Homo sapiens: one gene and its partner. The protein of the gene in region 1 purifies or fractionates together with the protein of each later gene. This does not show direct contact. Each region holds a gene or a part of one and is shown in the gene's direction. Other genes may lie near its edges.

Region 1 (3,652 bases):
TTGCCAGGGCTTATGGTTGACGGGAAGGTAGATAAAGGAACAACATGAGGAAGTTTCTTTTTAGTGATGGAATGGTTCTATGTCCTGGTCGAGGTGGTGGTTATACGAGATTGTGCATATGATGAAGCTTCATAGAACTATGCACATACACACACACAGTAAATGTAAAAACATGTGAAATACAAATAAGATCTATAGTTAATAGTGTTGTACCAATGTCAGTTTCATGGTTTTGATCATTGTAGTGTAGTTATGTAAGATGCTGTTACTGAGAGAAGCTGGGTTTGGGGTACTCAAGAACTCTGCTGTTTCTACATTTTTTTTTTGAACCTAAAATTCCTTCAAAACAGTTAAAACAAAAGACAGTTATGCTACCCTCAGCTTGAATGCCTTACAGTTGTAGGATATGATAAATTTCTCTTCATAGATTTTAGCCTGTAAATTGTTAAGTACAATGAGTTCTGAGATCCTCTCCAAAGAACCAGTGTATCAGTATGTTCAGCTCCCCTGTTCTTTGTTCTTCATTTTAAAGTTTAAATTCCTAGTTCTTTATTTCTCCTTGCCCCCAGTTTCAGTAAACAATCCCCTTCTAGCCTCTATCAACTGCTCTGACCTTAGTCACCCTTGGTCACCTGCTCTGACCTTAGTAATCCTTGGTCATCTGCTCTGTTCTTAGTCATCCTGGATCACCTGTTCTGTAACCGTCCTTCCCGCCAAACTACTCACCCTGCTGCTCTGGCTCATACCCCTGCTCTCTTTAAAATAGCCAGTTGGAATTAGCTTAGACTGCGTGGTCCAACCCTAGCCAATGGGGGAAAGACACAGCAGTAGGGACTAGCTGCGTTAGGATAAGAACCCCTTCCCCTCCCTTGTTCAGGTGTGCTCTTGACATTGCTCCATCTGTGAGACACACCCTTCTATAGAAGTAAAATTGCCTTGCTGAGAAAATTAAATTTATGTTCGAGTGCTATTTCTTTTGTGGCACCGAAAATTTATTTCTAACACAGTGACACTCTGTTCTTTAAAAACCCAAGTTTTTTAACCTGGTTTATGAGGCTGAACACCTTCTGGGCTTCTGTCTGTCCCTCCAGTCCTGATTCTTCTTTCTCTCCCTTCACATGGATTTTATTGAATGTATCTTGTTCTTCCCAGCTCAGTTGGTATATATATTTGCTATATATTCACTTTTTCTGGACTCTGCCTTTCTTCCCTTGCCTAATTAAGTTCTTATCCTTCAAATCTCGGTTTATCTGTGACTTATTTGGGGAACCCTTTCCTTACCTCCAAGTCAAAATCATATTCCTGTCAAACAAAACTGTGTTCTTACCCTCAGAGCACATAATTCAGCTACCATTCATTGTAAATTGGTTTATTATTTGATTGTTTCGTGTACTAGACTGTAAGTATCCTATTTGTTTTTGCTAATCATTGTCATTTCCAAAGGCATCAGTATAGTGCTCGTCAAGCAGTTGACCTTCGCTAAAAACTTATTAAATGAATAAAAATATTAAAAACAAATATAGCATATTTAGAAGTTGGTTCTGTACTTGAGATACACTTCAGGATTTGTAATTTTAAAGAAAGTTTTCTCATATTTTATAATCCATTGTTGTCTATTAGGATGCTGCTATCTAATGGCATTTTTGCTATAGTTAACTTTTCTAAAACCTCAGATATACAATTTATCTGTTACTGGATATGCTTTAAAATGTGAACTAGGAAAATTGTGAATTAATGCTTTTATCAAGTGAAGCACATTTTATTTTATTTTATTGAGACAAGGTCCTGCTTTGTTGCCCAGGCTGGAGTACAGTGGCATTCTCACTGCTCCCTGCAGCCTCAACCTCCTGGGATCAGGTGATCCTCTCACCTCAGCATCCTGAGTTGCTGGGACCATAGGCACATGTCACCCTGCCTGGCTAATTTTTTAATTTTTTTGTAGAGATGGAGTCTTCCTATGGTGCCCAGGCTGGTCTCAAACTCCTGGTCTCAAGGGATCCTCCCACCTCTACCTCCCAAAGTGTAGGTTTACAGCGGTCAGCCACTGTGCCTGGCTTTATTTTTTTTTTATGTTAATGGGGTTATCTTATACACAGTACTTTATGAGAGAAGAGGAAGGGCTTCAAAAATACATTAAATATTTTATTTATTTATTTTTAGAGATCTTGCTCTGTCACGCAGGCTGGAGTGCAGTGGTGCAGTCATAGCTCACTGCAACCTTGAACTCCTGGGTTCAAGGCATCTTCTCATCACAGCCTCCCAAAGTCCTGGGATTTCAGACGTGAGCCACTGTGCCCAGCCTCATTTTTATTTTAAATTTAATAATGACTGAAATTTATATTATTTACTTATTTTATTTTTTAGAAATGAGATCTTGCTATGTTGCCCAGGCTTGTCTACAACTCCTAGCCTCAAATGCTTCCCGTCTTGGCCTCCCAGAGTGCTGGGATTATAGGCATGGGACACCACACCTGGCCCAGACATAACTATCTCTAACATGCATTCATGTGGCAGAAATCAAATTAGTAATTTACTATTTGAAATGTAGTAGATAATTAGTTATATTGTTATTATAACATGAAATTATTTCCCACTTATAAAGTATCTACATGGGAATGTTACAGATTGTTTGATATTAAATATTCTCATAGATTGCTTTCTTAGAAATTTGGACAAACTCTTCGTCTGGAAATAAGTTGCATTATAAACAGTAAAGGTGGACATCTATCTCTTGATGATTTTTTTTTTAGTCGTTCTCTATTCAAGCTTTAAAAATATACTTTTGGTTACTGTGTAATATTTGTTACATTTTTGTGTTTTTATAGTATACCATAATTGAAGAAAAATGATGGAAGAGAGTGGAATAGAGACAACACCACCTGGGACTCCTCCACCAAATCCTGCAGGGCTGGCTGCTACTGCTATGTCTTCTACCCCTGTTCCATTAGGTACATGTAGTTGTCTAACATCTCGTGTGTTTTGAGAATAGTGAAGATACTATCATCTTTTCTCAGAGTCAATTAAGAAAAGAATGCATATATTAAAACTTCTCTATTATTTTTCAGGATGAAAGGAAATAGCCTTTTTAATTTAAAGAATAGAAAGAAAGTCTTGTGTATTTAAAGTAAGAAAACATCAGTGTTTTGCTTTAGGTGGACTTTTGTTCTTTATGTTCATAATTTTACCATCATTTATATTATGGCAGAAATATCCTAAAAAGCATGTGTTAGCTTTGTCTTCTGTTCTTTTTCTTTTTTTTGAGACGGAGTTTCACTTGTCACCCAGGCTGGAGTGCAGTGGTGCGATCTCATCTCACTGCAACCTCCGCCTCCCAGGTTCAAGTGATTCTCCTGCCTCAGCCTCCCAAGTAGCTGCAATTACAGCACTCACCACCATGCTCAGCTAATTTTTGTATTTTTAGTAGAAATGGGATTTCACAATTTTGGCCAGGCTGGTCTCAAACTCCTGACCTCAGGTGATCCACCTGCCTCAGCCTCCCAAAGTCCTGGGATTACAGGTGTGAGCCACTGCGCTCGGCCTACTGCTCTATGACTTTGTGGTGATTAACCTTTCTGAGCCTTCAGGGCATAGGTTTTTATGCTCAAACTAGGGATGAAAAATCGCTTTATTTTATTAAAAATACACCAAAACA
Region 2 (3,652 bases), on another chromosome or scaffold:
ACAAATGGACCATGTATAAATCAATGAGTAACTCTCAGGGCTCACTGGAACTAGCTTAGATATCTGGGATCCAGGCTGTGCTAGGTAGAATGTATATAGTGCAGAATCAGCAAGGGGTGAGGACTCCCTTTAGTGAGGCTTGATGTTAGCAGCCACACACAGTGTGCTGCAGAAGATGCTCTGAGATTGTGAATTTCCTGTGGAAAGTCAGTCTTATGATTTATTCTTCCCGAGATTTTAAAGATGTCCAGATGAAGCATCCCTCTTCTTGTTCAGGACCATCCTCTCCAGAATGTTTGTAATCTTGCCTTACTGGATCCTGTAGAAACCATTAACCCCTTCAGTTTCTAACTGGTGGTTCATTTCTCCTCAGCATTTATTTATAATGATAATTATAAATTATTCCTTTTTATGATGTGTCGAAATCTGGCCCTAAAAGCTTTTCCTGTATTGTCTTATTTAATCCTCATACAATGCTATGCAGTAAGTTATTTTTGCAGCTAGGAAAACTGAATGTCTGGTGTCATGTGACTTGTCTAAGGTCACAGACAGCAAGTAGTAGCACCAGGATTCATACCCAGATCTCTCAAGAAGGCAAAAAACAAATTGCATACACACCTAAGTATAACACTCTATATTATTCACCCTTCCCTCTTCACAGGCATCTTCTTGAGAAAGTACTCACTATGCTTGGTAATCTCCACCTTTACCTCTCCTTCCCTCCATGGCTCAGCATAGTTTACACTCCATAGTTTGCCACCCCATCCACACTTTCACTTCCCTCACCAGGACTATCAGTGTCCTATTTCTCAATGCAGTAGACATTGTGCTGTCTGTCCTCTTTTGTATTTGACTCTGTTTACCACTCTCATTTTTACAAAACTCTTTTCTCCTTTGGTTTCAATGACACTATCCTTTTGTTGTTGTCTTTTGAGGTGGAGTCTCCCTCTGTCGACCAGGTTGGGGTGCAGTTTTGCGATCTCAGCTCACTGCAACCTCCGCCTCCTGGGTTCTAGTGATTCTCCTGCCTCAGCCTCCTGGGTTCTAGTGATTCTCCTGCCTCAGCCTCCTGAGTAGCTGGGATTACAGGCGCCCGCCACCATGCCTGGGTAATTTTTGTATTTTTAGTAGAGACGGGGTTTCACAATGTTGGCCAGGTTGGTCTCGAACTCCTGACCTCACGTGATCCACCCGCCTCCACCTCCCAAGGTGCTGGAATTATAGGTGTGAGCCATTGTGCCCATTTTTTTGGGTTGCTTTCTGGACATTTCTTTTGAAGGAATTCTTCTACATGACTCTTAAGTGTTGCTGTTTCTCCCTCCATGTTCCATCTTCACTACTGTTATCCCACTCTGTAGATTTTTCCCTAAGCTGGATCATTCACAGAAAGTGCTTGTCTCTCAGATCTATTTCTCCAGCCCAGATGCCTCCCCTAAGCTCTAGACCAGGGGTATCCAGTCTTTTGGCTTTCCTGGGCCACACTGGGAGAAGAATTGTCATGGGCCACACATAAAATACACTAACAATAGCTGATGAGCTAAAAAAAAAAAAAATCAAAAAAATCTCATAATGGATTAAAAAAGTTTTCAAATTTGTGTTGGGCCATATTCAAAGCTGTCCTGGGCTGCGTGTGGGCCGTGGGTTGGAAAAGCTTGCTCTAGACCCATATTTCCAGTTGCCCACCTTTGTTGAGGCACGTCACAGTCACCATGCCCAAAACAATTCCATATTCATCATGGAAGCCTATGTTTTCTGGCATTTCAAATCTCACTCATTAGCATCATTTATTTCGTGATCCATACCAGAAACTTTATTAAAAAAACAAAAAAACAAAACTTGGTGGGGTGTGGTGGCTCACACCTGTAATCCTAACACTTTGGGAGACCAAGACAAGTGGATCACTTGAGGCCCGGAGTTTGAGACCAGCCTGGCCAACATGGTGAATCCCGGTCTCTACTAAAAAAATAGAAGATAAAAATTAGCTGGGCATGGTGGCACATGCTTGTAATCTCAGCTATTTGGGAGGCTAAGGCATGAGAATCGCTTGAACCAGGGAGATGGAGGTTGCAGTGAGCCAAGATCACGCCACTGCACTCCAGCCTGGGGAACAGAGTGAGACTCTCTCAAACAAACAAGCAAAAAAACCTCTCCCTCCTTTTTATCTCCTCCAATGTAATCGGTCTCCCAAATCTTTTTGGAGTGATTGTAAACAGCTTTCCTACCTGCTTTCTCCTTTCCATTCTCCTGTCACTCTTTTTGTTCAATCCATCCATCTCTCACATGGATTACTAAAATGATCTTGTAACTATTATCCCTCTCTCCAATACTGTCTTTTTCCAAACCATCAACTCCTGAGCCAGAGGGATTTTTTTATACCATGCAAATCTAATTTGAATTCTTTTGTATTCTAATACTTTTTCAGGCCTCTATACTATTTGCCATACTGTGTTATAATAGATGTTCCTATAGTAGATGTTCCTGGAGCAGAGAAGGCACTCATGGCTGTTTTTAAAAAAAAAAATTTTAATTGGCAAATAAAAAATTATATATACATATATATATAATGTACAACATATTGTTTTGAAATATGTATACACTGTGGAATGGTTAAATTGAGCTAATTATAAATGTTTATTCAATGAAGTGGATGACAAACTGTAGCACTCATTAGCAAAACACTCTGGTATTTACCAATATTTAATTAAATTAAATTAATTAATTTATTTGAGACAGGGTTTTGCTCTGTTGCCTAGCTTCCAAGTAGCTGGTAGAGATGGGATCTCCCTATGTTTCCCAGGCTGGTCTTGAACTCCTCAGCTCAAGTGATCCTCTCGCCTTGGCCTCGCAAAGTGCTGAGATTATAGGCGTTAGCCTCGGCACCTGGCCTTACCAGTGTTTTTAAAAGCTGTCTTTGTTGGATTAAATCCTTCATGCTTTAGTTTAAACTGCTTTCTCCTTACTTAATGGCTATTAAATATCAGGTGAATAACCAGGCTATTATACTCTCTGCAAATATATCTTTCTATGCATATTGTGGTGTTTTGGTTTAATTATTTAAGACTTTCACTAAATTACTCCAGCTCTTATATCTCTGATTATATTCTGCTGAATAACCTTAGATACCTTAATCTTCAGTCTTCCTGTGTCTTCTTGTCTAGCCTTTTAGTGACGCTTTTATTGGTCTCCTGACAGACACAAGCAAACTTATTGTGGTTCTTTGAAGTATCTATTCCACTGTAGATCTGGCCAGTGCTAACTCTTGCTTTGTGTTGCTCACATTATCGTATCTCCATTTATGCTTATTCATTGTGTTTTTGTAAAGCTAGTGCTGTATACTAACACTTTTTTTTTTTTGAGACGGAGTTTCGCTCTTATTACCCAGGCTGGAGTGCAATGGCACGATCTCGGCTCACTGCAACCTCCGCCTCCCAGGTTCAAGCGATTTTCCTGCCTCAGCCTCCTGAGTAGCTGAGATTACAGGCATGCGCCACCACACCCGGCTAATTTTGTATTTTTAGTAGAGACGGGGTTTCTCTGTGTTGGTCAGGCTGGTCTCAAACTCCCGACCTCAGGTAATCCACCCGCCTCGGCCTCTCAAAGTGCTGGGATTATAGGCATGAGCCACCGCGCCTGGCCCCTAACACTTTTTTTT

Evidence for each region.
Region 2: the proteins of PRRC1 (region 1) and SEC24D purify together in Homo sapiens (affinity purification with mass spectrometry; one large-scale study listed by BioGRID and IntAct). This does not show direct contact.

What each region holds. Positions count from the first base shown.
Region 1 is NC_000005.10:127,520,635-127,524,286, forward strand, and holds part of PRRC1 (protein PRRC1), read left to right. Parts: intron 1-2,825; 5' UTR 2,826-2,845; coding exon 2,846-2,948; intron 2,949-3,652. UniProt on the Homo sapiens protein: May act as a regulator of the protein kinase A (PKA) activity during embryonic development.
Region 2 is NC_000004.12:118,829,515-118,833,166, reverse strand, and holds part of SEC24D (protein transport protein Sec24D), read left to right. Parts: intron 1-3,652. UniProt on the Homo sapiens protein: Component of the coat protein complex II (COPII) which promotes the formation of transport vesicles from the endoplasmic reticulum (ER).